Linked DNA regions of Homo sapiens: region 1 is linked to region 2. Evidence: fine-mapped expression QTL. Tissue or cell type: prefrontal cortex. Region 2 holds a variant in brackets; the other region holds the start of a gene. All regions are shown on one strand. Distances are from middle to middle.

Evidence for each region. PIP is the estimated chance that this variant, and not a neighbour inherited with it, causes the effect.
Region 1: DCBLD2 starts here. The variant in region 2 is fine-mapped to the expression of DCBLD2 in prefrontal cortex (CommonMind, PIP 0.95).

What each region holds. Positions count from the first base shown.
Region 1 is chr3:98,900,505-98,903,117 of GRCh38, forward strand. It overlaps DCBLD2 (discoidin, CUB and LCCL domain containing 2), which reads right to left and starts at 1,191. Exons shown (of 16, transcript NM_080927.4): 1 at 618-1,191. The coding sequence starts at 822. It overlaps LOC105374002 (a long non-coding RNA gene), which reads left to right and starts at 1,510. Exons shown (of 2, transcript NR_189121.1): 1 at 1,510-2,013. RefSeq lists enhancers at 90-806, 807-1,522 and silencers at 630-1,319, 1,460-1,509.
Region 2 is chr3:99,475,828-99,478,592 of GRCh38, forward strand. All of the region lies in intron 1 of LOC105374007 (a long non-coding RNA gene), which reads right to left. Among named protein-coding and RNA genes, the nearest start is that of COL8A1, 160 kb to the right of the region's middle. The variant GT/G (reference allele first, on the strand shown) is at 1,465.

The DNA.
Region 1 (2,613 bases), 580 kb before region 2:
AAAGGCTTACCTTTTTAATGTGGAGAGCTTCACTTGGGCAAATTAGCATAGCGTTGGGTCAGACCCAGTGTTTGACCAAGGCAGTCTAGACCACCAGCCTCAATGATGGATTGTAAAGAACATGTTCTGAATCCAAGACTCAGAGATAAGCAGAAACTATTCCATTCGCTTCAGAACCCGGGCTCTTTCACAAAGGATCATAATTACCACCACTTACCTTTAATAGGCTTAAGATGCTATTTAATTAACCTGCCTTCCTACAGTGTCCATCCATCCGTGCAGCTTAACTTTAGGGGTCATTACCTCCAAAGGTTCTTTTTCCTCCCCAAAATTTTCCCCAGAAGGACCTAATATCAACGAGGCTTTCATAGCAGGGTCTCACGTCCCCCTTTCAGAAAAATAAATGGCCTTGCCAAAAAGTAAAGCCGCGCCAACTTGGGGGACAGACGGGCAAGACCTTGCCTTTGCAACTCAACCCCGTGAGTACCCAGCCAGGTCCGGCCACGCACGAAAGCGCACCGCGCCTCCCTGCAGCGTCTGCAGATTTGTTCAGGGGCCAAGAGACCCGCAGCCCCGACGGAGGTTCCCCCGCCGCTCACTCCCCTGGGACCACTCACCTTGCTGGGCTCCAGCGTCCTCGAGCAGCAGGAGCAGGACAAGTAAGAGCAGGAGGAACAGAGGCATGGAGAAGGAGGAGGAGTTGGAGCAGGGAGGGAGGGAGCGGGAGAGGGGGAGCGCGGCCCAGGCGGGGGCGGCGGCCGCGGCCCGGACTTGGGGACACTGCGGGCAGCGCCTGGCTCTCACCACCGCCCGGCTCGCCATCGCGGCGGCCGGCAGTCTGCCTGCATAGTGCGGGTGCCTCGGCAGCCCCGCGCGCCTCTGGCCGCGGCACCCGACCAGGAGACGGCGGCAGCGGCGGGAGAACAAGAGGCAGCCCTCGCCTCACCCCGCGCCGGGACCCTTCCGCCCCTCACCCCGCTTTCACCTACTCCTCCTTCGTCCCTTCCCTCCGCTCCCCGCGCCGAGACCCCAGGCCGGAGCGCAGGGGAGGGGAGGGAAGGAAGCGGAGTCCTCGAGCCGCGGAGGACGGCCGCGGCGGAGCTAAGGAACGTGCCTCCCGCGCCGCGCTCCTCACCAGGGTCGCCGCTCGCCGCGCTCACCCGCGGCTCCGGCTAGCTGGCAGGCAGGCCCGCAGCCAGCTCCCTCGCGCTCCCTCTCGCGCGCGCCGGCCACGCCCCCTAGGCACCGCGGCCAATCCTCGGCCAGCTCTGGTCCGTCTCCTTCCGCGAAACCCAATCAGCATGCTCGCTCCTCGCTCGACCCGCTAGTTCTCCGGCCCATTCCTCGAGCTCCACCGCCCCTTACCTCCCTCTTCCAATCCCCTTCGGCCTTTGGAGGCGTCCCACCCGCCTCCTCCAATCCAGGTCCCGCCCTCCAGCTTCGGATCCCCGCGGCCCCCGCCCGGCCCGGGCGCCTGTTATTGTTGGGCCCTCAGCCCAAACTGATCCCGCAGAGGCGGCAGCCAGCTCGTCAGTGACTTCCGGGACGTCCCCCATCCCGCGCTCCCTGCTCCTCAGGCCCAGCTTGCTCCTTGCTCCTTTCTCCTCGCTCCTCCGACGCACATCAGACCACTGGAAGGGGGTGGGAAACCTGGATCCTGGGTTGTTTTAGCTGGGAGCTGAGTCTAAGGGACTTTTTTTTTTTTTTTAATGGCAGAGCGTGGCTTGTTTTGTTAAAACTGCCGCCAGTTGTTGCAACAGCTCCGAGTTAGAATAATAGATGCAGTGTTCAGTTTTTAATATATGTGTTCCCTGTTTTCTCTGCTCTTTTTATGGCGGGGGGTGGGGGACAAAAAAGTGTAAAACAAGATCCGTGCCGCAAAGGCAATTTAAACCTAACATCCCAACCTTCATGCAGCCATTCTACAAGGAGTTGTTGAGCACCTGCTGTCTATCTACAGAAATCTTGAAATGTGGAACAGAGATGGAAATATAGCATGCAAGTCAGAATGAAGTAAGTGCTAATTAGAGTCACAAGCAGTTTGATGGAGACTGTAAGCCTATGGAACGACAAAAAGAATTTTAGGAAAGAGGAATGCAGAGGTCTACGCAGTGATTTATTTTAGAAGAGAGTGGCCATGTAGGATGTTTTTAACAGCAGTCCCTGAAAGGACAATGGTGTCATTAGCAAATACAAAAAACTGCTAAGGTGGAACAAGTTGTGTGGGAAAGTAAGTTAATTTTGGACGTATTGAATTTGAGATGCCAACTTAGATAATAAGTGAAGCTATGTAACAGGCAGATGGATATTTTAGTCGAAAGCTCAGATTGAGAGCTTTGAAATTATGGCTCTGGGAGTCATACATAGCCATACATGTATACATATACATATGTATACATAGTCATACATAGATGTGATATTCAAAAACATGGAAGGGACTGATATCCTTCAATGAAAGTCTAAGTTGGAAAGGACTTTGGAGGTCGTATGTTTCAACTCCCCTGCATATTTCTTATACAATAATCTCTTTAACCAAATTTATTCAATTAACATTTATTAAATGCCTAAGAAACCCTATTATGCTCTAAGCCATTGTGGGCATTGGGCATAAAA
Region 2 (2,765 bases):
GTTCATAATATTATCTGACTGAATGTATTGTGATCTGTGTACTTTCAATTCTGAAAACTTATGGATTCTTTATTTTTTCTTGATCAATCCTATTAAAACTTTATCAACTTTAAGTCTCAAGCCTCAATGTTGTTAATTTTTCTCCTTTTCATTGTTTATTTCTGTTTTTTTATTTATTTTCTTAGGTTTTCTTTAGTTTTGATGTGCTTTTTACTATGTAGCTTCTTGAGTTGTAAGTTTAAATAATTGATTTTCAGTCTTTCTTCTTGTCTAATATATGCAGCATATTCTCTGACCACAACAGCATTAAGCTAGAAATTAGAAAACATTTTGAACTAAAATAAAATAGAAACATGCCAAATCAGAATTGTAGTGCTGCAGTTTCTCTCTAAGTACTACATTACCTGCAGCAATATAATAATATGTTTCCACTGTAATTCTGGTTTTTTCATATATAATATATACTATACGCAAATATATATGACATTACAATTCTTGTTTCATACATACAGCCACTAGTCATTTGTATTTATCCACATAATTACTCTCCTGAAGTTTGAAATTTTCTCCTATATTTTCATGTTGCATCTGGAATCATTTTTCTTTTTTTTCTTTTTCTTTTTATTTATTTATTTTTATTATATTTTAATTTCTGGGGTACATGTGCAGAACGTGCAGGTTTCTTATATAGGTATACACATGCCATGGTGGTTTGCTGCACCCATTAACCCGTCATCTACATTAGGTATTTCTCCTAATGCTATCCCTCCTCTAGTACCCCACCCCCAAATAGGCCCCGGTGTGTGATGTTCCCCTCCCTTTGTCCATGTGTTCTCATTGATCAACTCGCACTTATGAGTGAGAGCATGCAATATTTGGTTTTCTGTTCCTGTGTTAGTTTGCTGAGAATGATAGTTGCCAGCTTCACCCATGTCCCTACAAAGGACATGAACTCATCCTTTTTTATGGCTTCATAGTAGTCCATGGTGTATATGTGCCACATTTTCTTTATCCAGTCTATCATTGATGGGCATTTGGGTTGGTTCCAAGTCTTTGCTATTGTGAATAGTGCAGCAATAAATATACAGGTGTGTGTCTTTATAGTAGAATGATTTATAATCCTTTGGGTATATACACAGTAATGGGATTGCTGGGTCAAATGGTATTTCTGGTTCTAGATCCTTGAGGAATAGCCACACTGTCTTCCACAATGGTTGAACTAATTTAAACTCCCACCAACAGTGTAAAAGCATTACTATTTCTTGACATCCTCTCCAGCATCTGTTGTTTCCTGACTTTTTAATGATTGCCATTCTAACTGGTGTGAGATGGTATCTCATTGTGGTTTTGATTTGCATTTTTCTAACTACCAGTGACGATGAGCATTTTTTCACATTTTTGTTGACCACATACATGTCTTCTTTTGAGAAGTGTCTGTTCATATCCTTCACTCACTTTTTGATG[GT/G]TTTTTTTTCTTGTAAATTTATTTAAGTTCCTTGTAGATTCTGGATATTAGCCTTTTGTCCGATGGATAGATTGCAAAAATTTTCTCCCATTTTGTAGGTTGTCTGGAATCATTTTTCAGCTTGAGAGTAGTTCATTTAATTTTACAAAGGTGGGCCTACTAGTGACAAATTCTTTATTTTTTATTTGACTAAAACTATCTTTATCTTCATTTTTTGAAGGATATAAAAATATTGTGTGTGAAATTATAGGTTGGCAGTTATTTTAACATTTTTAAGATGTCATTTTATTGTTTTCTAGTTTCCATCATTTTGGTTAAGAAGTTAGATTTCAGTCTTAGTGTTTCTCTTTTTAAGTCAACAACTGTAAGCTTTTCTCTTTATATTTGGTTTTCAGAAGATTCTTTGATATACTGTGGTGTAGTTTGCTTTGTTTATCTTCAAATTGTGGTTCTCAAAGCTTTTTGAATCTCTCAGTTGTTATCTTTCATCAGTTTGGAAAATATAAATAGTGATTCCACCCATTTTCTCTTTTTACTTCTGTGATACCTATTATATGTATGTTAGACCTTTGGATCATCCTATACATCTCTATTCATTTTTTCTTTTAATTTTTTCCTAATCTTAATTTTATGTGTTTTTATTGACTTATATTTTAATTCACTTGTCCTGTATACTTCTGTTTCTAATCTACTGTTAAATCCATCTATTGAGTTCTTAATTGCGGAGATTGTATTTTTCAATTGTATATTATCTATTTCTTTTTATTTAACAGAATATAATTCTCTGGAGAAAATCTCCATACTTTCACCTATTCTTTTTATCTTTTTTCTAATTTATTTAATATATTAATTATTGTTATTACAAAGGCTTTGACTGGTAACTCTGATATCTGGATCATTTATTAGTCTGCTACTATTTCTATCTTTTTCTTCTTCATTACTAATAAAAATTTTCCTGTCTTTTGGCATGTATAGTAATATTTTATTGTATGTCAGACATTAAGCATAAAAGAAATAAAGAGATTCCAAATAATGTGATGTTTCACCAGACAGTGTTTCCCCTTTCTTCTGTTATGTCACTCAGTTAAGCAGCTGACCATTTTGCAGAGTCAGGAATTGATATAGGTTAGAGCTGGACTATAGATTGTATAAGTCCCAGTATACATCTGTTTCAGTCATCTTCTTGAAAATGACCATCTCAAGCTTTTAATTAAGAGCCTAATTGGTTTCTTTCTCTGCAGTTCTGAAAGACTTCAGAATTTCCAGCTCTATCGTTCATAAGTTTCCAGCCCAGTTCTTT